Linked DNA regions of Homo sapiens: region 2 is linked to region 1. Evidence: fine-mapped expression QTL. Tissue or cell type: whole blood. Region 1 holds a variant in brackets; the other region holds the start of a gene. All regions are shown on one strand. Distances are between the middles of the regions.

Region 1 (16,187 bases):
TTTAACTTTCTATGACCCAGGTAGTAAGCAAAGTCTAATTCTAACATGTAATGCTTTTTTTTATTTTTCTGGAGTGATGAATAATGCTTCTCACATGGGAGGGCATTATCTACCTGAGGAAACACATATGGCCCTTTTATCTCCTCTATGCTTAATGCACAGATAAATACTTACACACGCACAGAGAAATGCTTCCAGTCACACGATCTGCTCATTGGAGGAAAAAGCACACCCATGCAGCCTGTTACATTTGCCAGCGCTGGGGCTTTGCTCTAAAGCAATGTCTGCTTTGGATGGCAAATTTCATAGTCTCTATTTAATAGGTTCATAGAGGGGATACTCACCTCCAGCTCCCCCAGACTGGATGTTATTCTCTAATCCCTGACTCCTAAAAGTGTCTGTGCCCAAAACATACCTGTTTCTTCTGGACCCTGAACGGCACGCTTATTTCTGCTGTTCTGACTGGAGTTGCCTTCTCCTGGAGCTGGTGGTTCAAAGATCTATGAACAGAAAAACTTCAAGTTATTAGAAAGACAGCTGAGGCGAGGGAGAGGCAGCAGTGTAGGCAGGATCTTGCCTGCGTCTTGCAGCTGCTGCAAACTCACTTTCAGTCCCGCGGTGACAGCTGGAGCTTCCTCCAGGCCGGCCTTGGGGGCTCCTGCTCCTGCTGGCAGCTTCTCCGCGTGGTGGCCCTGCAGCTCTGCCCGGAGGCTGGCCAGGTCCCCTTGCAGGGCGGCCACCTGGTAGAAAGACACCACCGTGAGGCAGCAAGACAGCAGTGCCAGCAGCAAGGTTGCAGCCAGCAGCTTTCCGTCTTTGGAGGATCGGACAGAGGGGCTTTCCTTCCGTGGGAGGATGGAAACACACTCCTTCAGTTTCATTTCTTCTCTTTTCTTAAGGCAAGAAGTAAGGCGTGACTGCTCCCTTTCTGTGGAGTCATCCATATCACTACTTGAACTTTGAAGGTTGGGGCCTTTAGAATAAGTGACCACAGGGAATGGATCATTTCCTGTTATCTGTGTTTGTTGATGTCCTGCGTGCACTACATGGCAGGGCTTGGCTCACCCCTCAGGAGAGTTATCCTGAATTTTCTCCTTTCTGCCTTTCTGCATCTCTACCCCTACTGTACAGTAGGTTTGCTGGCATTTACCCTCCGATTGGATTGCTCAATCTGTCTTCCTCATTTCACTTTCAGTTTTTGTAAGAATTTCAAAGTCTTCTCATAACACTCATGCTCAAGTAGATTTAAAACCCCTTAAATCTGCTGAGGAAACTTGGAGTTTGGATTGGCACAGTCAAGGGAAAGCTTTTAAGATATGCTCAGGTCTGAGAAGCCCACCCTTAAGTGTAGCAAGGGAACTCTGTCTGCTTGGGACCACATGGCTTCATAAGGAAGGGGGAAAAGCAGCTGAAAGTTCCTGCTGCTGTCATAAAAATAATTAATGTGAAGGTCAGATAAGCTAAGTGTTTTAGCATTGAATTGTTCTTAGCTAGAGAGTGATTTATTAACAGTCTTCAATTATGAAATAAAATGGAGAATCCTTGAAGGAAGTGTGGAAGTAAGTCCACTGGGAATTATTCATATTATTATACTAATAATGTCATAAAAAGAATGAGAGTAAATGTTACAGACGTATTTAGGTTAGATATCTGAAGGATTCTCTAAATATAAGTGAATATATTTTTAAGGAAAACATGCATAAACTTTTTCCTTCTGGGACTCATCACTGAAACTCAATCATGCATATGAACAGCCTGTCCCAAGGAGCCTGGTCTCAGCTTTTCTGCTCAGACTTCTGAGGCTTTAAGTCCCCGCTCAATATGATACTAGTTGAGGAGAATCAGCCTTGCCTCCAGCTCCAAATGCCTGACTGCTACCATTAACCACTCTCAAGTAGCTTGTCTACAACTCCCATGTTGACTGTGCCACAGCCTAACAGGTCGGTGTACAAGAGGTCCTTGATCACACAAGAGCCACCTTAGCTTTGGATTTTTCTGTTGTTGACTTGGTGGACCTGTGAGGACTGTTGCATTCATTCTAGTCCTGCCTTATCCTGATGGCTGGTTCCTGGACATTCCCCAGTTTTTCACTGCTTTGCCCCAGCATTGAAATATTGATTCATCTTTCAACAAACGTTACTGAGCACTTACCAAGCCCTGGGTAGTCACTACTCCCCTGTGGACTAAGAATAGTGAGCTTTAGTTCTGTCTCACTCTACATTTCCACACAGTCTTAAGTAAGAAGTTTACAGAAATGATATAGTGCAAAGTGGAGAACTCCAGACCCAGGCTTCTAGACTGCAAATCCTGCCTCACCCTCGCTCTCCTTATGCAAAGTACATAATCTCTCTGTGATTCCATTTCCTCACCTGTGAATTCGTATGACGATATTAACTGTCCCTGGGATACATAATGAGGCTTACAAGAATGTGGAAACAAATTACATTTTGGATGCTTCCATTTAAAAAAAAATTATTTCCACAGGTTTTTGGGGAATAGGTGGTATTTGATTACATGGTTAAGTTATTTAGTGGTGATTTGTGAGATTTTGGTGCACCCATCACCCGAGCAGTGTACACATTGAACCCATTTTTTAGTCTTTTATTCCTCACCCCCCTCCCACCCTTTCCCCTGAGTCCCTAAAGTCCATTAGATCATTCCTATGTCTTTGCATCTTTGTAATTTAGCTCCCACTGTGAGTTAGAACATACAATGTTTGGTTTTCCATTCCTGAGTTACTTCACTTAGAATAATTGTCTCCAATCCCATCCAGGCTGATGCGAACATCATTAATTCATTCCTTTTTATGGGTGAGTAGTATTCCATCATATATATGTATCATAGTTTCTTTATCCACTCATTGATTGACGGGCATTTGGGCTGGTTCTATATTTTTGCAGTTGTGAATTGTGCTGCCATAAACATGTGTGTGCAAGTATGTTTTTCGTATAACAACTTCTTTTCCTCTGGGTAGATACCCAGTAGTGGGATTGCTGGATCAAATGGTAGTTCTACTTTTAGTTCTTTAAGGAATCTCCACACTGTTTTCCATGGTGGTTGTACTAAATGATCAGGGAAATGTAAATCAAAAGCACGGTGCAATGCTTCCATTTTTTCATTCACTTTTATTCTTTACATTCAAAGTATGAATGAAACATTTTTCAGTTACAAACAGTGCTCTAATAGATATTTTCTACAACTGTGCTTGTAACGTCTGCAAGGGTTTCCCAGCAAATGCCTGCTGAGGGAGAAGCACATCTTCACTTTTACAGGCACCACCCAGTTACCCTCTGACGAGTTCCCATTTCCTCATTGTCTTACTACAAAATGACGCAGTCAGACTTACTTGTTTTTACCATTAGGATTGTTTTTTGTTTTTTGTTTTTTTCCCTTTGCATCTGCAAGTTTCCAAGACCTTTTAAAAATAACTTGTTATTATCCTGGCCCCCAAAATAAGCTGCTCTCTAATTTTTCTTACCTATAACTCCCACAATAAGGTGACCGTGCCCCAGTCTAACAGGTACGTAGACAAGAGGTCCTCCATCAACCTTCTCAGGTGGAAGTCTTCTTTTAGAAGGATGTTTGTAAACCCTTTTGCATCAGGAATGACAGTCCAATTCTTTTCTGTCAGTTCTTGTTCCAGAACAATTAGGGTGAGTCATACGGAGTAACCTTGCCATAAAAAATGGAATTCGTATGGGAATTGTATGAAGGCCTTCTTACTGAAAGTCATTGAGATCCTTTAGATGATGTGTTTGTGTATTCTTATGATTTAAATACATGCAGAAATGAAAGGATGCAACGCAGTGCTAGAAAGCAATTTCTCTCTGCGTTTCACTCAGGGTTTCCTGTAGCCACTGCTTCTCTCCATCCATGGACATTCTCCCTCTTCTGGTGAGTCGTTCCCCTCTATATCCCTCAGAGAAAATTCTGAAGACAGGGAATGATTTGACTGCTTTAGGGAATTCCCTCTGCCTTCGTCACTGTGTTGGGCAGAGACTTTCATGCCTGAACATCTCAAAAGAGAGTCACTGGCCAGCCTGCACGCAGCCATTTTTAAACCAGTGCCGATGTTTGTTGCGGCAGTGAGCCGTGCCATGCATAAAATGGGCAAGTTCTTCTTCCACAAAGGGCAGCCATCATGTCCCTCTGGCTAGAGGGACAGCAAGCAGGGATGGCAATGTGCACATCCTCCACAGGGATCTGACAGCTGCATTTTCTCTAAAGACAGGTAGAAAACGAAGTGACATTCATGACTCTTGAATCTCTTATTAGATGAACAAAAGGAAGTCATTACTCCATAAATCAAGAATCTGTTTCCGGAAGAGGAAATGGTTTGGCAATAATTTAACAGAAATTCTGTTAAACAAGAAGCATGTTCACGTTCATTGAATAATACACCACATCACAAGTTTATTCAGGGACAAAAGGCCACTGTATCTGAGCCACAGATTGTGCAGCGATCTTATTATACATTCAGTGTTTATTGACAGTATTTAGCTGCTTTTTACACACATCTTTTTCTCAATGTAAGTGTAAAGCATTCTTCTGTCATTCAATAAACAAACTGAGATACTAGGACTTTGTGACTGACGAAACTGTTCTATCCACTCAGAAATAGGCAGATAGGATTCAAAAGAATATAACTTGTGAGTTTGTCCGGGAGTCAGAAACAGCAGAAAATAAACATTCACTCTCTGACTATGTTCTTACATTGACAACCTCAAAAATATTTTTAAAAATGAATTATAAATTTCTGGCTAAATAGTGCTATAAAGAATTACAGGTTTGAGGAATCTCTCCTTTGCCCTTTTTCTTTGAGGAAAAGCGTGTTTTCCTCAAAATCCTTTGAGGAAAAGGATTTAGACCAGTCAAGCATGGCGACAACAGCTCTTCTAGATCTGTGAATGTACTCGATCTGTAAATGTACCTAAAATTACATCTAGATAAAATTGGTATCCTAAAGCACTCAGAATATGGAAGATTTATGATATAGGTTAAGTATTGCATTTCAGGAAAATATGCTGTTTTCCAGTAGAAATATTATATATATATAAAATATTTATATATTATATATTTTATATATATATTATATATAATGGAGAGAGAGAGAGTATGTGTGTTAAGTTATTATATAGTTAAATTTGATTTGAAAGGCTAAATGTTAATCACTGTATATAATTTTTAATTTAAAAAATTTTTAATTGACACATATATATTTATGAGATACAGTGTCATGTTTTGATATATGTATACAATGTGTAATGATCAAATTAGGAAAATTAGCATATCCATCACCTTAGACATTTATCATTTCTATCTGGTGAGAACTTTGAAAATCCTGTCTTCTAGCTCTATTGAAATATATAATATATTATTGTTAACTATAGCCGCCCTACTGTACAATGGAACACTGGAAATCGTTCTTCCTATCTAACCCTGACTTTGTACCAGGTGACAAACCTCCACCCCAATACCTCCGGTAACCACTCTCCTACTCTCTACTTCAATAAAATCAACTTTGTAAGATTGCATATATAAGTGAGATTACACAGTATTTGTCTCTCTGTGCCTAGCTTATTTCACTTAATATAATGTCGTCCAGGCTCATCCAGGTGGCTACAAATGACAGGATTTTACTTTTTATGGCTGAATAGTAGGCCACTGTATTATACCACATTTTTAAAATTCATTCATCTATTGATGGGCACTTAGGTTGAGTCCATATTTTGGCTATTGTGAATAGTGCTGAATCAACATGATTCATTGATTGGATGAATGAATCCATTTCTTGGATCCATTTCTTGGATACATTGATTGCTTTCTTTTGGATATAGACCTAGTGATAGAATTGCTTAAGTATGGTAGTTCTGTTTTCAGTTTTTTGAGGAACCTCCATACTGTTTTCCATAGTGGCTGTACTCATTGACATTCTCACTAACAGTGCACCAGCGTTCCCTTTCTCCACATTCTCACCAGCTAGAGGTCACTAATGCTAAATGAAATAAGCCAAGCATAAAAAGACAAATATCACATGTTCTCATTCATATGTGGGAGCTAAAAAGGTAGGTCTTATGAATATAGAGAGTAGATAGGTGGTTACCAGAGGCCAGGAAGAGTAGGAAGAAGGGTGGAGGGATGAAGAGAGGTTGATTTATGTTAGAAAAAATAAAACCTAATGCTTGATAGATTAGTAGGGCAACTAGAGTTAGCATTAATCTGTTCTACATTTCAAAATAGCTAGAAGAGAATCATTTTAATGTTCCCACAAAACAAAAGGATAAATATTGAAGGTGATTAACTTCCCAGTTACTCTGAATTGTTCTTTTCATATTATATGATGTATCAAATTATCACATATACTCTGAAAATATGTGCATCTGTTTTGTATCAATAAAACAAATAAATTAAAATTAAATGGACTGCAAATATTTTAATGATTTATTTGAAATTTCGCTTATTGAATGTTGAGAAGAGGATGGGTTTAGGAGTGTAGGCTCTGAAGCCAGAAGCATCTGTATGCCCAATTCTGCTTCGCCATCTTAACAGAATCTTTCTTGCCCCAAATCTAGACGCTGACTTTGTTTAGATATCTATCTCTGTGGGATGCCGACATAATCTCACACTTTAGGGAAGTCCTAATCATGAAATCTACTCACGATGACTCCATCTACATCACCACTGATTGCTAAGGAGGGACAAATGAGAGAGGCTTTTTACAGTTGGTTGTGAGGTGGTCTCCTGGGGGCACTGCTAAGAAAGAGTTCCTCATTCTTAAAGAGATTGACAAGAAAGAGATGCTCTTCTTCCACTAGACATTACAAGCCTGTCTGTGATCACCGAGAACTGCCATCCTGCAACTGCCGTCAGGCCCAGACTGAAACAGTGACGGCAAGAACAGGATTCTGGAGGGAACCTGGCTCTGTAAGGACATAATTGTCCTGCTGGATTACTCAACTCTTCATGCTTGTTATTTGGATCATACTATTTCCTAACTGTTTACGCCAATGTGAGACAAGATTAGGTGTTAATTCATCCAAAGACATCCTAAATCTGCTAGTTAGATTAGCAGTTGATTAGGATCCAAAGACATACTAATTCTGCTAGTTGTAAGAATTGTATTCTTACAACCAAAGAACTTTGTATAAGAGAGTTTTAAATGTTCTTTCAGAAATTTTCCAAATGTCCACTTTTTGAAACTACGGTGTAAAGAGAAAAGGTCAACACCCACAAGCTAGAAAAACTAATTCATTTGTTAAGAAGAGTCTTGACCGGGCGCGGTGGCTCATGCCTGTAATCCCAGCACTTTGGGAGACCGAGGCGGGTGGATCACGAGGTCAGGAGATCGAGACCACGGTGAACCCCGTCTCTACTAAAAATACAAAAAATTAGCCAGGCGCGGTGGCGGGCGCCTGTAGTCCCAGCTACTTGGGAGGCTGAGGCAGGAGAATGGCGTGAACCCGGGAGGTGGAGCTTGCAGTGAGCCGAGATTGTGCCACTGCACTGCAGCCTGGGCGACAGAGCAAGACTCCATCTCAAAAAAAAAAAAAAAAAGAGTCTTACATCCAGTTTTAATATAGCTATTTTTTAATAATTTAAGCTCTTTAATATGTTAGGAATCTTAAGAAAAATTATTATTATGTGAAGATGTGTTTAATGAATCTGTCTTTTCTATGTGGAACCAAAAAAACGTAGTCAACTCTTTCAGAAAAAAAAATGCAAAATTAGAATTTGTGCATCTCCGTGTAAGAAGGGAATAATTTCAAACTAAGAAAAAGTAAGAGAGATATAGTGTATTCTGAGAAAACTGCAACATGAATGCATCTTTCTTCTCCTTTACTAACAACTGTAAATTATCTTTCTTCTCTGAGCCAAATTGCAGTAGAACTTAGAGGTAATTGGGTGTTAGCGAGGGGCTTTTTGCTCTAATTGGCCCTAGATAGAGAAAAATAATGTTTGAGGTTTATTTCTCGAGAGTATTTGCAGTACTATATGTGAGACCCAAGTCTCAATGGGTCTTAGATAGAATGGTTGAGCAGAAATCTGTGGGCCCCAGGCAGTGGCTAACATCAGCCTCACAGGAATATGCCAAGTTTCCCGGGCCTCTGAGTACCCACAAAGGGAGTAAGTGCTTGGGGTTAGTCCTCCCTGCCCCTAAAGCTGAGAGACTATCAGGGGATCACAAGAAACAAAAGCCTCCCCCAAATGCCTCAGAGTAGACTAGAAGTTTCCCTGTTAGTCCAATCCTGGCTCATAGGGTTAGACAGGACTTGATTTCCCACCTCCTGAGGCTAGACTGCCCCAGCTGAGCCATCAAATCAAACACAGGAGGTGTTGAAGAGAGAAAGCTTGAAATTGGGATATCGGGAGAGATGCAAGAAGTGGCTGGACGTATAAATAGTGGCTAGACTGCAGTGTTTTTGCATGCACAGCTGTGGTTGTGTGAAATGTGAAAATGAAGCCATTTATATATATATTTTAAAAAGATTATGGCAGAGGGTAGGGTGGAAGTAGGGAAGATATGTACAGAAAGAAATGATAAACTAAGAGTGTTCAGCTCCATGAGTGCAGAAATGTGTGGTTTCTAGCCTATTGTATCTCTAGTGCCTGGAACACTTGTCCTTCATGGATTCTGCTATTCTCTGTTAAATGCTGACTAAATAAACGTCTTCCAATGAAAATTAAAAAAAAGAGAGAGAGAGGGAGAGATAAACCATCAAAGAAGGAGAGCACAGAACATCCCAGCATACACACAACACAAAGGGATGGAGACAACTTGAATTTTAAAAACTAATAGAGGACTTAAGATTCAACTGAAGAAACTTTTTAGGAACTAAAAAATATCTCTATAGTTTTCAATTAAATAATTTAATACATGCATTGAAGAAAAGGATGGTCACTTTTGAGCACTGAGTTACTGGCCTGCAGGCTCAAATAGAAGTAAAATCTCAAAACTCAAGAGTGTTTTGCAACTCACATGCAAGAAAAATGGGAACATAAAAGGAGGGAGAGGATATAGACTAAATAGAGGCAATGACATAAAAACTTACAGGAGAAAAGAATAATGCTTCTTAATCTATGAAAGAGCTGAAACTACAGTTTGAATTAGCTTATCAAGTCCTAGGTTAAAATGCTGAGAAAATCTGTATGGGTAGCTTTTTGGAAAAGAAAAATAAGCAAGTAGGTCGGGCGCGGTGGCTCACGCCTGTAATCCCAGCACTTTGGGAGGCCGAGTTGGGCGGATCACGAGGTCAGGAGATCGAGACCATCCTGGCTAACATGGTGAAACCCCGTCTCTATTTAAAAAAATACAAAAAATTAGCCGGGCGTGGTGGCGGGCGCCTGTAGTCCCAGCTACTCAGGAGGCTGAGGCAGGAGAATGGTGTGAACGCGGGAGGCGGAGCTTGCAGTGAACAGAGATCGCGCC[G/A]CTGCACTCCAGCCTGGGCTACAGAGGGAGACTCCGAGAAAGAAAAGAAAGAAAGGAAGGGAGGACGGGAGGAAGGAAGGAAAGGATGCTGAGAAAAATCGACCCAGGTAAGGTCTGATGGTATTACTGAATATAGAAAGAGTTGTTGGGATATGATGAAAATAAAGTATATAAAATCTTGTAAAATGCATTTAAAGCTATTTTTATGAGAAAAATCATATCTTTGATGGCATGTTTTAAAAAGAAGAATGGAAAGAAATAATCTGAGCATACAGGTCACAAAGCCCTAACAAGTTAAAAGGTGAAAACAAATTAAGCTTAAAGATTGGAGTAAAAAATATAAAAGAGATTAATGAAATAAATAATAACTTTACAATAAAGAGAATTAAAAATTGGTTATTTGACATAACAAATAAAATTAATAATTTGTAGTAAGACACAGTACAAAGGAGAAAGTATGAAATTTCAATAACAGAAATTTTAAAAGCGGGACATTTTAGAGCTATTACAGATCCTAAACAGGTAAGAGGATATTATGAATAAATTTGTGTGTAAAATTAAGGGGAAATTGGAGTATACATGCATTTCTCTTGAATACAAAAAAAAAATGAAATAACAAAGTAGCTAAACCAATTGCAAAGGAAGGATATTCACCATCCACTCTTTCAGTATTGTTCTAGGTACTAGGCATACAAAAATTAAAACAGAGAGAAAAAAAGTCAGAAAGAAAAAAGAAAACTCCTGTGTCATGGAGTTAAATTCTATTGTATAAGATCATTTTAAATGATTTCAATTTTTACTTGATAAATTTATACAAAACAGTTTCTCATCTGATTTTCCATTTCTTTTGTATCTGTGGTTAAGCATTTTTTTTAAAAATTGTCTGCATACAATTTCTCCTTTTATTCTTGAAAGAATAGCAAAAACTTGTCTGTTTTGTTAGTGTCAAATAAGTAATCAGCAGATAGTTCTGTTTATTATCATTATGAATTGTCTCATTCTACTTGTTTGTTTTGTTGTTTTCTTTAGTCTGACTTCTTCAGTTGAGTGTTCAAACATTCATTTCTTTTCTTATTTGTTGATAGGCTATTAAATTTCCCAAGAGCATTGCTTAGTAAAATTCAATGATATCAGGTATGTATTGTGTTTTATTATTATTGTGTTTTTTATATATTGTGCTTATTATTTTCTAGAAACGATTAATAATATAAATTAATCTAAAAATTTTGTTTGGCTTTCCAATTTGACTTAAAAGTTATTTAAGAGATATTTGTTAATTTGTTTTAATTTCCAGAAATTTTCTTCATTTTTCTCACTAACTTCTATTTTATCGTATTGCATTCAGATAATTTTCTCTCACAATTTCTACTTATAAAGCTTAATCAGAGTTTCTTTAGGGATTAATAGTATTGTCATTTGTGTGAATGTAACATAGCTACTTGAAAAGAAGGGATATCCTTAATAATTTTATTATTTTAGTCTACAATATCTGCATTTTTGTTTATATGATGTCATAGAATAATAGAGATGAGTAAAATTTCCCATATCTAATGTTTTTTCCTGTGTATTTCCAGGTGTTTTTCTTGTGGTTTCAGCTTTATGGTTATTGATGCTATATTATTTAACATTATAACACTTAGTGCAAAGATATTAAAAAATGAGAGGGAGATAATAAATTATGTCTATCAAAAAGATAACTTTTTCCCCAAATGCACAAGTGATACTTAAAATTTTAATCAAAATGGACAACTTTAAAAAGTAGTCTTTTACAGGCTACCATGACGGATAGTTTGCAAAGACTGGAAGAACTACTCTCTGGTGGCATGCCTGTTTGCAATGTGACTGATAATAAGGTTGGTCTGTCTCCTTATCCCCTAAATCTGAACTGACCTTGTGAATTGCTTGCTTTGACCAGTAGAACACACAGGACTGCCTCCCTGAGACCCGCATGCAAGAAAGTCAGTCTAGCTTACTGGAGGATGAGAAGATACATTGAAAACCACTAAAGTGCCTGAACCACCTGCCAGCACTTACTGCCAAATGTGTGGGTGAGGCTATCTTGAACCCCCAGCCAGCCTGGCTGTCAGAGGCATGCGGCCACACACATGAACTCAGGTGGAGCTGGCACAAGAGCCACCTGAAAAACTCACAGAATTACAAAAATAATAAAGGGGAGCTGTTACAGGGCACTAAAGTAGGGTGGTTTATTACTTAGTAATACCTAAGTGATATATCCCATTCATTGATTATAATCTCATAAAAATAGAAATCATTACAAAAAGGTGATCAAAGAGTTGCTTACTTGAAAATGTAAAAATACATTCATAGGTCAAGTTTGTGTCAAAGAAGTATGCGAAACTGAGGTTAGAAATTACCTAGAAAATCACAAAAGGGAAAACAACTTATACCAAACATATGAGCCAGAGCAGTACTCACTAAAAAATTATAGCATTGAAAACAAAGCTATAATATAAACACAATGATGTCCAAAAGAATTAATTCTCATCCAAAAGAATTTAAAAAGGAATAAGCCAAAATAATCCAGGTAATGAAATTAAATAAAGATAGCTAACACTGATGATTAATTATATATTGTTAGTTAAAACGTGAGCAAAAGTCATTCTTTATATATACATATACATATACAAAAGTCATTCTTTATATATACATTCTTATATATACATTCTTTATATATACATTCTTTATATATACATATATATGTATATATACATATATACATATATACGTATACGTATACATATACATATACATATACATATACATATACATATATATGTATACATATATACATATATACATATACATATACATATACATATATACATATACATATATACATATACATATACAAAAGTCATTCTTTATATATACATATGTCTATATAAAGAATGACTTTTGCTCACGTTTTAACTAACAATATATAATTAATCATCAGTGTTAGCTATCTTTATTTAATTTCATTACCTGGATTGTTTTGGCTTATCCCTTTTTAAATTCTTTTGGATGAGAATTAATTCTTTTGGACATCATTGTGTTTATATTATAGCTTTGTCTTCAATGCTATAATTTTTTAGTGGTTTCAGCTTTATGGTATGTGTATATATACACATATATATGTGTATACGTATACACATATATATATGTGTATATATACACATTATATATAATGTGTATATATACACATATATATGTATATATATACACATATATGTGTATGTGTGTGTTTGTGTGTGTGTATATATATATATATATATATACACTTCAAGTTCTGGTTTATATGTGCAGAGCGTGCAGTTTTGTTACATAGGTATACACGTGCCATGGTGGTTTGTTTGAAAATGTAAAATAATAAGGTTGTTTTGGAAGCCAATCTAATGATACTAGAAATATTAAAAACATATCTACACTTCAACTCAACAGTCTCACTACTGAGAATTTATCCACGGTATCCATGGTGAAAAAAAAACAATAGAAAAAGTGTGTGTGTGTGTGTGTGTGTGTGTGTGTACACATGATGTTAAGTAAAATTAAATTCTATTTTGTTTAATGATCTATCAGGGATCAAAGATTTCCCTTGTGTTTTTCTGCTACTCAAATATAAAGACTCTTGTCCTCAAATTGTTTGATTACCATGACTGATTGCTAAAACAGAAATATAATTTTATATGAAAACTCATAAAATCTGTTTTAGATACTTTCAGACAGTCATAAAACATGTCTAGTAGTGGAGACAGTATGAGTTCATAATTGTACTTGTCGTTGGTTACTTCTAAATTTACTAAATTTAAAATGCACTTGCTAATTTTTTGTCTATTTTAAATATAAGCCTCTGGTTATTAAAAAGTAAACAAAAACTGGTGGGTGATTCCCAGAATTTTAACCAAAAGCATAATCTGTTATCTCATGGCAACAGCTGTTTACATACTTTAAATTGAATAATGAGCTTTCAACAATTTCAAAATTTAAACACAATCCAGACCAATGTTGATATTTCCACACTCAGGACAAGTGGCGCAGTGTAAAATTCATGTGAAAATCTTATCACTATCAACCACCAACACTAGCAACAATTAACCAAGGATAACAAGTCAAATCAAATAAGTATAAACTGTACTCTACTAGTGACTACTGAAAATTCAGCATTTCAGAATACTAATCTTCAATCCTTTATCAAAAGCATTTTTTTGACTTTAAAAAATGTGGTAAAATACACATATATTATACAATTTACCATCTTCATTATTTTAAAAGTCACTCTGCAATTTCTCTTTAATATCAATGACTTGTGAATTTATAATTCTCACTGTGTCCCAAACAAGGGAACCTATTACATTTTGTAAACTTCTGCAGGTCATGAATTTTGCACCTCAAAGAGGATCTGTGTGTTGTTGAAGGCTTAAGAGGACAGCAGTGTGTGACACAGAATCCCGGACTAGCACTCAGAAAAAAATGTGTTCTGGTTCAGTTGTTCAACTACATTTAGTCATTTGACTCTTTGGTTTTATCTCTGTATTCTTTGTGAAAAGATGTAATCTTTTCTTTTTTTTTAACTTTATTATTATTATACTTTAAGTTTTAGCATATATGTGCACAATGTGCAGCTTTGTTACATATGTATACATGTGCCATGTTGGTGTGCTGCACCCATTAACTCGTCATTTAGCATTACGTATATCTCCTAATGCTATCCCTCCCCCATCCCCCAACCCCACAACAGTCCCTGGAGCGTGATGTTGCCCTTCCTGTGTCCATGTGTTCTCATTGTTCAATTCCCACCTATGAGTGAGAATATGCGGTGTTTGGTTTTTTGTTCTTGCGATAGTTTACTGAGAATGACGATTTCCAATTTCATCCATGTCCCTACAAAGGACATGAACTCATCATTTTTTATAGCTGCATAGTATTCCATGGTGTATATGTGCCACATTTTCTTAATCCAGTCTATCATTGTTGGACATTTGGGTTGGTTCCAAGTCTTTGCTATTGTGAGTAGTGCCACAATAAACATATGTGTGCATGTGTCTTTATAGCAGCATGATTTATAATCCTTTGGGTATATACCCAGTAATGGGATGGCTGGGTCAAATGGTATTTCTAGTTCTAGATCCCTGAGGAATCGCCACACTGACTTCCACAATGGTTGAACTAGTTTACAGTCCCACCAACAGTGTAAAAGTGTTCCTATTTCTCCACATCCTCTCCAGCACCTGTTGTCTCCTGACTTTTTAATGATTGCCATTCTAACTGGTGTGAGATGGTATCTCATTGTGGTTTTGATTTGCATTTCTCTGATGGCCAGTGATGATGAGCATTTTTTCATGTGTTTTTAATTTCCTTAAGCTGATAAGCAACTTCAGCAAAGTCTCAGGATACAAAATCAATGTACAAAAATCACAAGCATTCTTATACACCAATAACAGACAAACAGAGAGCCAAATCATGAGTGAACTCCCATTCACAATTGCTTCAAAGAGAATAAAATACCTAGGAATCCAACTTAAAAGGGATGTGAAGGACCTCTTCAAGGAGAACTACAAACCACTGCTCAATGAAATAAAAGAGGATACAAAGAAATGGAAGAACATTCCATGCTCATGGGTAGGAAGAATCAATATCGTGAAAATGGCCATACTGCCCAAGATAATTTATAGATTCAATGCCATCCCCATCAAGCTACCAATGACTTTCTTCACAGAATTGGAAAAAAACTACTTTAAAGTTCATACGGAACCAAAAAAGAGCTCGCATCGCCAAGTCAATCCTAAGCCAAAACAACAAAGCCGGAGGCATCACGCTACTGACTTCAAACTATACTACAAGGCTACAGTAACCAAAACAGCATGGTACTGGTACCAAAACAGAGATATAGATCAATGGAACAGAACAAAGCCCTCAGAAATAACACCGCATATCTACAACCATCTGATCTTTGACAAACCTGACAAAAACAAGCAATGGGGAAAGGATTCCCTATTTAATAAATGGTGCTGGGAAAACTGGCTAGCCATATGTAGAAAGCTGAAACTGGATCCCTTCCTTACACCTTATACAAAAATTAATTCAAGATGGATTAAAGACTTACATTTTAGATCTAAAACCATAAAAACCCTAGAAGAAAACCTAGGCATTACCATTCAGGACACAGGCATGGGCAAGGACTTCACGTCTAAAACACAAAAGCAATGGCAACAAAAGCCAAAATGGACAAATGGGATCTAATTAAGCTAAAGAGCTTCTGCACAGCAAAAGAAACTACCATCAGAGTGAACAGGCAACCTACAAAATGGGAGAAAATTTTCACAACCTACTCATCTGACAAAGGGCTAACATCCAGAATCTACAATGAACTCAAACAAATTTACAAGAAAAAAACAAACAACCCCATCAAAAAGTGGGCAAAGGATATGAACAGACACTTCCCAAAAGAAGACATTTATGCAGCCAAAAAACACATGAAAAAATGCTCATCATCACTGGCCATCAGAGAAATGCAAATCAAAACCACAATGAGATACCATCTCACACCAGTTAGAATGGTGATCATTAAAAAGTCAGGAAACAACAGGTGCTGGAAAGGATGTGGAGAAATAGGAACACTTACACTGTTGGTGGGACTGTAAACTAGTTCAACCATTGTGGAAGTCAGTGTGGCGATTCCTCAGGGATCTAGAACTAGAAATATCATTTGACCCAGCCATCCCAGTACTGGGTATATACCCAAAGGACTATAAATCATGCT
Region 2 (15,539 bases), 41 kb after region 1:
ACAAAAATTTATTTTTGTAGCACCATAAAGGAAGGTAACGCATCGGAAAGAATGAAAATAAAGTGCTGGCCATATGTGGTATGCTTAAAAATGTGTTCTCCACCATAATGGCTGAAATCCTATGTGAATTTTCAGAAGCCAAATGAATAGCCACTGCTCCACCCAAGGAACGGCCAAAAAGAAAAATTTTTGTTTTATCAAGGTCAGGTCTAGTCATCACGTAGTCTAACACAGCTTCAGAATCTAAGTAGAGTCCTTCTTCACTTGCTTCTCCTTCACTTTTTCCATATCCTCGATAATCAACCAGCAAAAGGTTAACTTTGAGGTTAACCAACATAAGTAATGCATTTGGCAACCTGTGACCTATGTTGCCTGCATTCCCATGAAAATAAATTATAGTTGGGGAATAGGGTGAATTGTCTCCAGTGTATCGTATCAAAATAAGATTCAGACGTATTCCATCTTTGGTTCTGATGAAAATGTTTTCATGTGGAATGCCAGTGGGCATGGGAACATAAAGACGTGAAGAGGATGGCTGTTCTGGAAAATAAAGCAATACATCCTGGAATTTATACAGAATACCTGCTATTGATATGAATATTAACAAAAGTAAGATAATGCCTCCATACAGATGAAAAGTCACTATTAAAGGTAAAAGAGAAATACGGCAGAGAGCCCAAGACCATGAAGCCAAGGCTATTAGCCATCTTTCAACAAAGTTCCACAGCATCCAGGACTTTTCCATTGTAGCTCTCTGTAAGTATCCTAGAGAGAGAGAGGGAGAATATCAATAATTCAACGTCTATCTATTCTTTTAAAAATCCACAATATAATAAACTATGGTACTAGGCCACATGTAATTGTTAAATATGGTAATAGGTACAGTCCATCCACAAAAGTAGCTGCTATAATTTCCCTTGTCCTTTCTGTTCTCAACAGTTTCCTTTCTACCATATCCCTCCACTGTCATATTTAGGAAACACTAATATTCTTCAAATTAACTCATTTTTAACAAGTGCTTATTCTTCATATACGTGTTCTCACGGATTTGACCCAAAAAAAGTTGATGCGATAGTGTCATTTTTTTTTTTTAATGAGAAAACAGAAGCTCAGGGGCATAAGTAGACTGGCTATCATCTGCTTCTCAATGTAGAAGAGCTGGGAGGCAAACAAGCATGATTCTAGAGATTGTGGTACATCTGCTGTTAGGTTACGTATGTCCAGGGCAAACTGTACTGAAAAGGCAGTTCAGAAATTCCAACATAGCAAGACCAATCTAATATACTTTGTCAATTTTTTTCACATACGGTAGCAAAAACTAAAGAAACTAGGGTAAGGAGTTGGGCAAAACAAAATAAAACAAAAAAAAACAACTAGGGAAAGAAAGAATAAAAGTATCCCCCCTCTACCTCGAAGTTTTAATACTAAACTTAAATAATTTGCTTAAACACTAGATTCTAATATTGTATTAGTTTTAAGAAAATTATTAATGATTTATCTTTCATATGTAATTAAAAATAAATATCATATTGCTAGTGTCATGAGATCGGCAGTATCTTTTATATACTCTTTAATGAAGTTTCACGTCCTGGGGTCAATAGATTGCTAAAATGTATTGATAAGGCAATAAATACTTGAGGGTTCAGTGTGAAACAAATACACAGAAATCCTCTGAGAAACAGAGATAAATAAAGTAAAATGACTCACTGGAGAACAATTCTTAAAAAGATTACTAAAATATGTTAACTGATATAAAGAAAGTAAAAACTATTAAAAGAGAATTTTTTGTTATCAAAAGGTTTATACATGTTGTCTTAAAAAGGCAAAAGAATTGAGATATGTTACAAATTTTCTTATGTACTATTCGTCTACTTATGCTTATTTACTGAACTTTTAAAAATACTACATTTCCTTCTTTCCCACTGACCAAACTGCTATAAAGAGGTTATAGATTGATTATACAAATAATGAGTTGGATGATTTAACAAATTTGATTTTTTTCTATTATTTCACTAAACATAGACTTTTACATTTGAATTATTATTCAAATGAACTGAACCTTTTTGAGCATAAACCAACATTTTTCTGATTTCCCAGAAATCAACACTGCCACCCAGTGGTAGCAAGTTTTATTACAGTATCACATCCTCCCTGAATAACTATTTATCACTTATTTCCAGTCTCAATTGCCTTTTCAGTAGAATGAGTTTTTAAAATGCTTACCTATGAGGCTGGTCATTAGTATCAAGTAAGATTAATAATGAGATCATTCATAAATGTTACAGACATGTTAACTTTATTTGCTTTTGTGACTGGTATTTCTGGCTCTACTACTTTCTTACTGTGTTCTGCTCAAATTAGTTCTTACTTAAAAAATTATATAAAACCAGATAAAATAGCTCCAAATACACGAATAAGGCATATTTTAAAATTTGAATCTTATATTTACATTTATATCAATTTACATAGTTAAATTTTCAACTAATGAACTTTGAAAAGTTATTTTCGTTTTAGTAGCCTCTAACATCTAATTTTAGCAAATACTGAATTAAAATTTATAAGACTAGGAATTGTATATCTCTTTTTCACTATTGCATCTCTAATATCTAGTACAGCACTTTATATATACTTACGACTAAAACATTTTTAAAATAATCTAATTACATATACGAATTATTCAATTTATTTTAAAAAAAGTATTCTGAGCAGTGGGCATATATGTTTAAAACAACATCAGAAAAATGGGCGTATTTGTTTGGGTCTATTACTGGCTAGGAATAATAAGGGATAAACTTACCGTTTTCCACAAAACATTCCTGAAAAGTCACATTAACTAAACTGTTTTGTGATAAACAATCATAATCTCACAATCAGTTGTTGCACTATGGAAGTCGGAATAAAAGTCCATTCATCTTGAGTAATATCAAATGGAAGTCATTTTTAAGAACAGGTTAATAAAAATTGCTCTGGGGTGGCGGAGTGCGTGGGTATGGGTGTGTTTTCTCCTTAACATATTCTTATATTGCTGGTTTAGAGTAAGAACTCCACTCACGGATTGCCTTATTTTTACCTAACCCCACTTGCTAATAATCTCTGTTCCCTAGTCTGTATGATATATATTTCCATCTCAAAGGTGATCTTAAAGGAACCAGGACAAGTGAACAATATCAGGAAGGATTTTTAATTTACTGAATTTGCTGAAAGTATCAGCAAAGCATAATTACCATGCACCATCTGCTGAGATGTAAAAACAACTTCATACCCAGATGTTATGACAGTCAATAGAAACAAACACTGCCTCTAATAAAGTCGACTGCATGGATCCTACAGCCAGCATTATGTTTTCTATTGATTTTGTCAATAAATTAGTGTGAGTAAACGGTTAACAAAACCTTTCTCCCTCTTCAGATAAAAAATGACCTCTCCTTAACCTTCCTGCACTGTTTCCCTGGAAACCTGATAAAGGTGGGATATCAGCTGTGTTTCTAAGCAACAGTGTAGTAAAAATGGCTCCTACTGATGAGCTACATCTGGACTGAGAGGACAGTGAGCAGGGCTAAACATGCCCAGTGGGAAGTATAAACAGGGGCTTTTCTGAATTGAATACGACCTGTAATTGGCTTGTCATTTGCTTAGTCCTGGATGCTATACTCACATGCTGTCACAAAAAGACACTGTTTCCTGTGGAGCATGAAGCAGCTAAGCCAGGGTGGTGCTCACTCCCACCCTTGTGTCATTTTCCACTAGACCTGAGCTATCATCTGGAACAATATACCTAACACTGACATGTTGGGTTTTCAAAAAAGCAGAAAGGCTGATGCACAGTACGGTCCACTATGGTATACTGGGTCTTGTGAGTATCAATGTCCAATTGACCCCAAGACCACTGCTACTAGTCATGAAGAATGAGTGAAGCAATCAAGTATGTCCCATGTGGTAAAACACCTATAAAACGTGTCTTCAGAGGAGATGTATTATTTGTTGGGTTCTTCTGCATGTGAAATCCATTTGCTGATAACATCTTGGCATCATAAAAATCAGGAAAAAGGATGCATTTAATACACTCAAACTTATACCAACTAGAAGGGCTGCTGAGTAGGAGAGCCAATTAGACCTGTTCCATGTAGAATATAGAAATGTAGATAATCAATAACTTCTCATCTTCCAGTCTTCTTTTACATCATTATTGTATGTATTTTTAACCTTATGTCTACATCTTAAATGAATACCTGACAGTCCCATTTCTCAATTTTCTGTTTGCTATGTTATCAGATCTGGTATTACATGTCAGACATTTCTAAAACCCACCAATCTGTGGTTTTAACCACCGCCAGTAACTCCTTAACCATTTACTATCTGAGAACTTGCTGACTGACTTCTCATAATGATCTCTCATACAATGTAAACTTCACTTTAAAATAAATCTAGTGGATTTTTCTCAATCCACACTGCAACACCAGACCCCCAAAGTGTCATCTGCTATTGGCTTCTCCTCTACACTCAAATTGCTGTTTCTCTCTGCCCTATACCCCGAAAAGCAGGCATTTTCCAAGGTCTTCTCCACTCATTTAGGATACTATGTTCTTTCCCTCAGTGATTTCATTCCTTTTCATGGCTCCAATTATCACACCTGTGTATGAATTATTCCCAATCTACAAGTCTACTCTTCATCTACAATCTCAATTTACCTGTTCCTCACGTACCTGATGCTTCACTGATATTTCAAACTTATCCAAAACTAAACACATCCTGCTCCCTTCCCAACGTTTTGCAGACTTTATGCTAATTATACACAAAAAAAGCATGATGTGTAAACAAATACATTTTTTAAAAACCCAGGATATGTAGCTAAGATTTAAGTATTACAGTTTATTATAACCTGTACCAGTCTTGTATTTGAATGAAAAAAAAATCAACCTTAGAAACAACTTTTGTGCTTTCTAAATGAAGTGGTTTGAGGTGTCACATTGATATTAGTGAGTGTGTCTCAAAAAATAATCTACTGAAAGCATAACTAATCTTTATTATCATGTACTGTATAAATTAGATATGATTGTTTTCCTTTTACAAGAATGGTTTTGCAGTATTAGTGACATCCTGCTATACTACATAAGTAGTTTGATCATCTGATGCAATTTAATATATGGTGCTCATCTTGAGGATTTATGGTCCTAATTGGCTGGTTGTAGTCACCTCTAGTGCTCCCTACTTACTGTCTCTAAATTTAAGTCCATGACGGGTATACAATAAACAATTTGAGACTAAAAATAAGAGCCGTCTAGAACTGTAAAGCTCTCAGACCACCTTGCTGGCTAACAGTGTTAGCTGGATGGTAAGTCAGCTAAGGGCATGAGTGATGGCCATGCTTCTCTGATGTCTACTAATCATCTCCTGTGTTCATATAGGATCACGAATGGTTCCATTTTTAAGGAAAAATATTTCATTTAAATAACTATTTTATAAACTGATGCTTTAGAAAAAGAGATCAATATTGAAGTCATGCCCACTACGAATGGTATGAGTCCTCAGAATATCACTGCAGGCTCCCAGGGGAGCTGTGAAACCCAGCGTGGACCACTGAAGCAGGCCTACAGTTGATTTCCCAGCCTCTTCCGTAAGAGATGGTCATCAGATTCCAATGCATCCTAGTATACTATACAGTCCTTGCTCTCAAGTAGCTTGTGATCTACTCAGTAACGTTCAAGCAACTCTTGAGGTACTCGGGAGACAGATATGGATATAAATAACTACATACCTAACGTAAGTTCATTTAATTATAGAGCAGACAAAGAAAAATCAAAGAAAGATGACAATTGTCATTACATATAGCAAAGGAAAATCAAAACCTTAGCTGTATCTTTCCTTCACAACATAATTTTAGTAGTCTCTGGATTTCATCAAGGTTGATTACTTAGAGAAACCAAGTGGAAACTTATGCAATGTTTTAAAAGCAGGACAAAACATAACTCCAGGATTAAGAATCTCTATTACTTTCCATCAAACAGCTGTCTGTGACACTTATTTTTATTCATTTAGCACGATTATTCACAGAAACTGCAAGTATTCAGCATAATCTAAATAAATACTTGGCAAGGATAGCATAGAGGAATTTAGAGCTGTTAAACTGGATGAACTTTGAGGGCTCTATTAAATCTGAGATCTTTCTATGCCAGTGGTTCTCAAAAGGTGGTCAGAAACCTGAGGGTCCCCAAGACCCTCTAATGGGGTCCACAAGATCAGTATTATGCTCATAATAATACTAAAATATCATTTACTTTTTTCACTGTTTGACACTTGCACTAATGATGCATAAGCAATGATGGGTAAAATTGCTGGTGCCTTTGTAAGAATCAAGGTAGTGGCCTCACGTGTTGGAGTCACTGTATTCTTTATCACCATGAGCTCACGGTAAATGAGGGAATAATCCAGTTTTACTTAAGAATGTCAAAGAAGAAGCAGTAAAAATTATTTTATCTCAACTAACAAGTACACATCTTTTTAACACATTGTGTGACAAATGTGTGACAACACTGGAAGTGCACATAAAGCATTTTGTGCTATGTATTGAAATACATTTGAATTGTGAGCTGAACTAGCTGCTTTGTTCAGGTAACAACATTTTTATTTAAAAAGACAACTGACAAACTATGGTTGTTCAGACTTAGAGGTTTGGCAGATATTTACTAGAAAATGAATGAGGTTGCCAATAGCTCCTAGACACTTAAGGGACCTTTTTGATGGCACTGTGGTAATCTATTAATATTAAACATGTCACCATTTGGAAAAATCTGCATAACTCCATAAACCAATATATTCCAAATGACCAATGAATGGTGTCACAAAATCAAGCAAACGTGAGTAAAAAATTCACTACAAACCAACAGATTTTGATGTAACAAGAGACAACAATTTCTCTGATGTAGGTTTCAGATGGCACAATATAACTGACCTTTAAGGAAGTGCCTCCTGTTGGGTGATGGAGTCGTACCAACGAGTACCCACAATTCTCTACTACAATACTCTTCCCTTTACAACTACAAATTTGTGTGAGCCTGACTTTCTTCATGTTTCACTTTAAGAGCCTAATAATCTGCCTGTCTTCTATGAGGCAGACATTAAAGATAATTACAAAAATATAATCCCACACCTCTATTTTTTGTAATTACAATTGTTTTATATAAAATTTTATTTATGTGAGTATGTAATGAACTTACTACTGCTATTTTTAAATGAATTAAAACTTCCAGTTTTCCAATTTTAATTTATACACTTTATAAACTTCCAGTTTTCCAATTTTAATTTATACACTTTATAAACTTCCAGTTTTAATTTCTAACACAATAAATATCTATATAATCCACATACATACAAAAAAATCTTTGGGATCTTTACATTTCTAAAATGTAAACGGTCTGAGACCAAAAAGCTTGAGAACCACGGTTCCATACTATTTAACCATATAACTGTATTGCCTTATGCCCCAGAGACTTGCCTTCTTCAAATTAAGAAAGATATATTACATTTTTTTAAATCCTTTCTGCATTATAACATATATAAATATATTTAAGGTTTTTACCCAGTAATATTTTCTCCAAAAACTAAAAATAAATAAAAACTTATATATATCAAGAACTGAAACTCAAAAGTATAGGAGTAAATACATTGTAATTATTGCCGTAAGGTTAGTAGGAGAATAAATTAGACAAATCTATTGTATCATAGATAACATTTTACAATAAAAATTGTATTTTAATGAAGGTCAGAACTGCCCTACAAATTAAATTCTAGTTATTCTAATTATTTTTAATTAAAAAGTGTACATTGGGCCAGGCATGGTGGCTCATGCGTGTAATCCTAGCGCTTTAGGAAGCCAAGACAGGTGGATTGCCTGAGCTCAGGAGTTTGAGACTAGTCCGGGCAACATGGTAAAACACCGTCTCTACTAAAAATTACAAAAAATTAGCCGGGCATGGTGGCGCGTGCCTGTAATCCCAGCTACTAGGGAGACTGAGGCATGAGAATCACTTGAACCCAGGAGTCGAGGTTGCAGGGAGCTGAGATCGTGCCACTGCACTCCAACCTGGGTGACACAGTGAGACTATGTCTCAAAAAAAAAAAAAAGTGTACATTGTTTTGCATATTGTATATCGAGTTACGGATTCTGCCACCAGCAAATGGTCTTTTAAAAATACAAAAAAGTGCATTACCCATAGTGAATTACAATGAATTTCCGAAAAACAATTTGGCAAAAGGCTAAACAATTTCAAATACAATTAAAAAGTCCTAAGTCATAAAGGCACTATTATTTCTTTAAAGATCTTTAAGTCCATCCTAGATTGATAATTTTGGGAACAGCTTGTTTAAAAATAAAAACTGTTCATACATTTAAAAAAAATGTGCAGGTTCAAGTGAAGACTGTAAAAAGTGGAAAGGGAGTTCGTGTGTCAATGCCGACATCCACATCCCAGCAGAGAATGAGGACCCCACACCCCATGGGCTCATTAATTACTCTGGGTGAATCACAGCTTCCAATCACATGTGAAGTAATGTGGAACTCAGATTCAGTATTCTTATATCAATCTCTCTCCTCTTCTGTTAAGCATTGGGAAGTTAAGAAACCATGCCAGCTGCACAGCTGAAATGGAAACACAAATAGCTGCTATCAAGGTGTTGGAGACACCACAGAATGAATTATCTATTTCCCTAATGGTTACCCACATGCCATCAATAATGAAAAAGTGTGTATTAATAGTCCTATGGGACAAATGAACAGTAACTGCCTATGGAGATGCTGGATAATAACTGGATGGTTCAGACAGCATCTTTAACTAGGATTTAAATCTGTATGAGCAGATAGCTCAAAAATTATACCAGGCAGCTACTTAGTAGCTTTTTCATGCTTGAAAATCTTGGCAAATAGAGTCAACTCTGGCAGAAGTAAAATGAGAGATTATTGTTACTATGGAAGCCAACCACAATTTGTTCTGAGATTATAAATATCTGAAATGTTTAAAACAAATCCACTAGCCTAAAACTGTAGTGATGTTAGACTGATAATGAAATTCACAAAGTTTCCAATTTATAAATGGGCAATGTTCTAAAACTTTACCTATAAACTAGATGGATGAAACTTAGAATATTTGTTTTGTATAAAACCAGTGTTATATAACATTGAGTATGTGAAAGTAAGTACAACTAGAAGCCTTACTAGAAGTATCTAGATTCTCAGGCTAGCTCATAAATGCATGTAGTCCCTGTACTGGAAATACTACATCTTTGCAAGGGATTTCAGCAGAATATACTGTTGTAGGAGTTCACACCATGTGAAACAGAAACATAAAATATAATAATGTATTACAAAATCTGTCATTTGAGGAAAAATATCTTACTTAGAAGAACTAGAGCATCTTTTAAGTCCACACGAAAAAAGGCTATTTAAAGGTCTTAAGACTTTCCTGGGGCAACTAAACAAGGATTAGAAAGATTTCAGAATCTGGGTAATACATTAAACAGAGAAACAGAAATAGATTCCCCTGAGATAAGTTATGAGAAGAGATCATGGGAAAATGTTAGATCCAACAGTTTCCTGCACCTATCACTAAGTTATATTGTTAGCCCAGGGCAATTTGGTTAGTAAACCCTCTTATCCACATGCCAAGAGGTCTTTGATGTGCCCAAGAAGAGGGCAGTGTGCCAAGGGCTACCTGTAGGTACCTGGCTTGCTTTAATCATTCCAAGTTAACTGTCAGTGGGAGGCAGTGTGGTGCAATGGAAAGGAGACAGTGTTTTGAGTCATGGTCTGTTAAGAGATAGGTAGCTTTTGCCAACTCACTTAGCCTCTCTAAATATATATTTCCTCGTATGTAAAAGGAGGATGAAAGATTAAATTGAACTACTGTTGAGATAAAATGTAATAGTGTGTTAAGTGCAGCTACTTCTATGAGACAAAATTTAAATTACTTAATTATGTACTATAGCAGAGTATGTGAAAGTAAGGACAACTAGAAGCCCTATTAGTCCTAGATCAAATAATGGATATGATTCCCTAGAGGTACCGTATCTGAACACAGGAAGTAATCAGAGCAATGCACTCTTTCTCTGTTAAAACCAAACTCAGGTAGTAGATCCTCTAGAAAGCTTTCCTTGGACCCCTATTCCCTCCTGCCACCCATTCCACATTCTGTAGTTTGTGCAAACTTACGTGGCAGAAGTTACTATTACAGCGTAATTAACCTGCTTACACAGGCTGTGAGTTCCTCGATGACAGAGACCTCGTCCTATTCAACTCTACATTTTCTGTACGCAGCAGTGCCTGATGCATAGTGGGCCTCTATTAACGATTATTTAATTGAGCAGCTGATGTCTTAGGTAGGATATCATGACATTAACACTAAATCGGCAATCAAGAAATCTTACACAGTAAAATAAAATTTGATATTTTAGTCAAAGACGAGTGATTTCCCTAAGCATGCATACAAATAAGTATTGATCCACGAACCCCCTCCCGTCAAAAGAGATCAGTGAAAAATCCAATATCAACACACAAAGCCAATATACTCATCTCTTTCTATCCAGTTACTATCACATAGTAAACATAAATAAGAGTTGTTAAATGGGGACGGACTTTTTTTTGGTTTCGATACCTTGGGTAGTAATACTAGTAATTCATTTTACTTAAATGTTGACTAAAATCTACAGCAAAATTGACTTCGATTGTATGGGGTGCTTTTTTGATGTTTCCTGAATAACCCCAGAACTTCCTGTCATGATATTCACAGGTCTAAACCTGTTACTGTCGTGATTAGATCGGGGCTCTCCCTCTCTCCAACCTAGTAGCTGGAATTATTCTATTTTACTTTTCATGTCTGTGTGGGAGGGTGGGGGAGCGGAGGGTTGGATTTTAGGGATCTTAGGTTTGTACACATTACTGGAAATACAATTGACATAGAACACTAAGATACGTTTTAGGTTCCAATTACAAAACGACACCCGGCGAGCCTCTGGCAATGCGCGCACCTTAGTTTCCAAAACAGGTATTTGGCTTCAGTTTGCTTCCCCTGGTGAGTGGTGAGCGGAGTCGGGGCGGCCGGCAGGGCTGCACCCCGGGCTGGTCCTCCACAACCCCCGGCGCTCGGCCCCCGCACGACCCCCAGGGGAAGCCGCACTAGCCCCGGGGCTCCCCCCACAGCCTCCCGGGAGGGTTTCGCGCCCGCCTGGAGGAGCCGGCGGCTCCCCGCGACCCTCCTAGAAGGAGCGGACCGGCGCTCGGGCCCCGCGGGCTCGGGGTCCCCGAGCCGCACTTACTCAGACTCGCGGACAGGCTGCGCAGTCGGCCGCGGGCACGAAACCGGGCGCCGCGCAGCAGCGTACCCCCGCGTCGCTTCCGTCGCTCCTCATCATCCTCCTCCAGCCCAGGGGCCGCTGCCGGCGCCACGGTCTAGCCCGGAGCTCCTGCTGCGAGCTGTGGCCCCACTTCCGGCCCCCGCTCGGGTGTCGCCGGCAAATGCCCCCGCCGGCTCCCACATAACCTGTTCTCCGTCTCCGCTCCCGGAGTGGGAACCCTGCCCGCTCTTCCGAGCATGCGCAGAAGCCGCTGCCAGTGAGCCCCCGCGACGGTGGCCCGGACGGAAAAGATACCTCGGCGGCGTGGGCCCGGCTCCCTGCTCCAGGACCTAGGGATCTTGGCCTTCCACCCTCCTCCGAGCACCAGGACTCCCTCCAGTTCCGTACCCGAGGCCTCCGTGGTGAAGAGGTGCCGGACCCGATGAGCTCGGGAGTCCACCATCGCTCTGCAAGCCGCAGGTTTGCGGAGCAATTTGTTCTGCCTGATAGGGTTGTTAAGGGTGTCGCAATGAGGTCCACGATTTAAAGCGCTTCCATAACTATTTTTCTCCTTTTACCTCTACGAGAGTGGACTGTCAAGGGCGAATGCAGGTTTTGTGAGGCCTGAACCTTGTGCCATTTGGAGAGCCCTTTTAAAGAAAAATAATGTAAAATTGTCTTATTTTTGCAAATTTTACCGAGGTACACGACCATGGGAACACCTCGTTAGGGCCCCTCTCAAGGCCTTGGAAGTGTTCGCAAAAATGGGCCCTTAAAACTTGGGCTTCATTAGCTTCGCTGTCAACCCCCCTGTGCACTGAAGTGTACACACTTGTTTACAGATGTGTGCCTCCCCTCCCTTGGGCTTTCCTTATTCTATGTCCCCTATTTTATATATACAGAGGATATTTCATAAATCTGTGGGTTTTTTTTTTTTTCCTTTTGAGATGGAGCCTCGCTCTTGTCGCCCAGGCTGGAGTGCAATGGCGTGATCTCGGCTCACTGCAACCTCCGCCTCCCTGGTTCAAGCGATTCTCTCGCCTCAGCCTCTGACCTAGCTGGGATTACAGGTGCCCGCCACCACGCCCCGCTACTTTTTGTTTTTGTTTTGTTGCTGTTTTGAGACGGAGTTTCGCTCTTGTTTCCCAGGCTGGAGTGCAATGGCAAGATCTCGGCTCACCGCAACCTCCCGCCTCCCGGGTTCAAGCGATTCTCCTGCCTCAGCCTCCGGAGTAGCTGGGATTACAGGCATGCGCCACCACGCCCAGCTAATTTTGTATTTTTCTTCAGTAGAGACGGGATTTCACCATGTTGGCCAGGCTGCTCTCAAACTCCCCACCTCTGGTGATCCACCCACCTCGGCCTCCCAAAGTGCTGGGATTACAGGCGTGAGCCACCAGGCCCGGCCTAATTTTTGTATTTTTTAGTAGAGACGGGGGTTCACCATGTTGGCCAGGCTGGTGTCAAACTCCTGACCTCAAGTGATCCGCTCACCTCAGCCTCTTAAAGTGCTGGGATTACAGGCATTAGCCACTGGCCCGGCCTGTGGTGTTGTTGTTATTGAACATATGTGTCTTGCTACCAGATGGAGAGCTCCAGGTCAAAGCTGGGTTCTTGAATCATAGCTTCCTAATCTTGATCACGGAATAAGTGCCAAGCATATATAAAGTAGACCATTTACATAAATAAATTAATAATCATGGCAACTCTAGAAGATACTTAGTGAAAAAAACCCTTGATTGTCTTTGAACCAATCAACTAAAATAACATGATGAAATGGAGACTGGGCTTTGAATCAATTTGGAGTTTGCCTGGTTTCATAATTCATGGTTCTTCTCATGTAACTAATACAAAGTCCAGCTTCTGACATTGTAGGAGCTCAGTAGAGGTTGAACAAGCTACAAATGTACACGGATAGGTACCCTCTCCTAAGATGGGCAAGTGGAGGCTCCTCTACCTTAACACTATTCATTTTTCCTCCAAAATAAATTGATAACTAAATTGAAGAGCAGATACTCACAAAACAATATCATGAGACTTTACAACATCACAGATGATTTTAGATATTCAGGCATATTAGGTCAATTAGACATACGAAGTAAATAACTGAATGTTCTTGGGCTAGACGGAACCTCCGCTACAAACTAGCACTGAATGAAATGTGTCAGTTTTGAAAAAGGAGGTTTTTATACATTACACAACCTCTAAGGGCACTTAACAGCTCTAATATGTTTTATCAGGGCCCACTGCAGCAAAATTTATTTTATTGTAAAGCAATATTTTATGCTAAAATAAAATAGTTCTAAAAGTTGTTTCCACCCCTCTTTATGAATAACTTCTCACTTCTCCATGGCGAAAGAGGACTGACCACAGCAAAAATTCGGTGGAAACCAACAGCTCCTGGAACACAAAAACTGGGGTTGTTTATAATCTCTCCACCCTGAATATCTAGCACCATTACTATATAATAATAGGTGCTCAATAAAGGTTTGTTAAATAACTTTATTTTTAAACCTTAAACAGATACTAGAAGAGTCCATAGTTGATTTCTGGTCATGCAACGGTTTATTTCTATATTGTAAGTTATGTATTGTTATGTATTATTTCTGTATTAAGAGAACTGAGACCACAGTAGCAAACATCATTTAAAAAAAAAAACAGCTCTATATAGTTTGCAAAAGCCTATTTTTTAAAAGTTTAAATGAAACAACCAACGTTTTGAGTTGGGAGGATGTCCTGTTCTCTCTTGGGAGTTTTCACAACCAGCGAAATCAGTATAGTTACCACTGTTTTACGTACAGAGAACAAGAATTAGAGGCTATCACTAGCCAGAGCACAAAGTGATCTTAGGTCTCCCTCGAGACAAAATCCACTGGCGTGTGGATCAACTGCTTGCAGAGAGCATCTGCTGCCGAGGCCAATAGGAGCCGTGTGTACTCAAGACCCTAACCAGGATCCTGCAGGTCCCGCCTCCGCAGCCCCACGGGGCTGCCGGCCCCCCCACCTCCCATCGCGAGCCTGGCTGCGCCGGCGTGCTTGAGCCCGGTGACTGCAAGGCCCCGGGTCTCCCCTGCGCCTGCGCGGCGAGCAGCTGGCGGAACCGGCATCTTCTGGCGCCAGCTTCCGGCTTAGCGGCTGAGCTTCAGGCTTGACGTCAGGTGGGAAGGGTGTGGGGTGGCAGGTGGGGGCGGTTGGGAGGTTGGGGGGGGTTGGGGTGGGGGGGGTGGGGGGTGGCAGATTGACGGTGTGGGGGGAGTCAAGTGGAAGGTGTGGTCCAGCAGGCGGCGAGAAGTCTGTGGGGCAACAGACCGGGGGAAGGTCTGTGGGGCGTCAGGCGGGGTATCTGTGGGACGTCAGGTTGGGGTCTGTAGGGCGTCACGTTGGGGGTCTGTGGGGCGTCAGAGGGGGGAATCTGTGGGGCGGCAGGTGGGGGGTGTTCGGGGCGGGGTTTGGGGTGTGTGTGGCGGCAGGAGGCGGGGGAGGTCTGTGGGGCGTCAGGTTAGGGTCTGTGAGGTGTCAGGCGGGGTTTACGTGGGGTGGCAGGTGTGGGGTGTGTGGAGAGTCAAGTGGGGGGTGTGGGGCGTCAGATTGGGGGTCTGGGGGATCAGATGGGTGGTGTCTGGGACGTCAGGCGGGGGTCGGGGGGTCGTCAGGCGGGGGATGTGTGGGGAGTCAAGTAGGGGAAGTGGGGCGTCAGATTGGGGGTCTGGGGGATCCGGTCGTGGGGGTGTCTGGGACGTCAGGCGGGGGGCCTGAGGGGCGTCAGGTGGGGGGGTCTGGGAGGCGTCAGGCGGGGGTCGGTCTATGGGGGCAGCAAGCAGGGTGTTTGTGCAGCGGCAGGTGATGGGAGTTGCCGAGTCCACAGCGCTGTAGACTGCGCCGCATTAGAAGCCTGGCCTCCTGATGCTGTGCTCTTCATCTAGACCCAAGCCCCAGGTCGTGGGACGATTTCTCCCGTTTTTGACTCCCTGGAACTGTATTGCCTGCTTTACCTGCGTACATGTTGATTCTTTCTCATGGCAACCCCGCAGGAAACCATCAAGATCTCATTTTACAGCTGGGATTCTCTGGTTCACAGAGGTAACGGAGCTTGCCCGAGGCCAGGTATTCACTGGGAATCCGTGAAGGGTTGGGGGAGAGTAGGGGGAACGGGCAGAGGAATGATGTAGACTCCTTAGGGATTTTCCATTTTCCGAGAGGGTACAGGGGGCATTGGA

Evidence for each region.
Region 2: it holds the start of ABHD13, and the variant in region 1 is fine-mapped to the expression of ABHD13 in whole blood (TOPMed, PIP 0.96).

Annotation. Positions count from the first base shown.
Region 1 is chr13:108,254,653-108,270,839 of GRCh38, reverse strand. TNFSF13B (TNF superfamily member 13b) reads right to left here and starts at 1,122. Exons shown (of 6, transcript NM_006573.5): 1 at 606-1,122; 2 at 416-500. The coding sequence starts at 944. RefSeq lists a silencer at 217-296 and enhancers at 197-705, 657-1,086. The variant G/A (reference allele first, on the strand shown) is at 9,428.
Region 2 is chr13:108,214,425-108,229,963 of GRCh38, reverse strand. ABHD13 (abhydrolase domain containing 13) reads right to left here and starts at 11,572. Exons shown (of 2, transcript NM_032859.3): 1 at 11,305-11,572; 2 at 1-765. The coding sequence starts at 745. It overlaps LIG4 (DNA ligase 4), which reads left to right and starts at 14,428. Exons shown (of 3, transcript NM_206937.2): 1 at 14,428-14,480; 2 at 15,354-15,426. RefSeq lists silencers at 11,050-11,289, 14,226-14,365 and enhancers at 11,570-11,899, 14,209-14,503.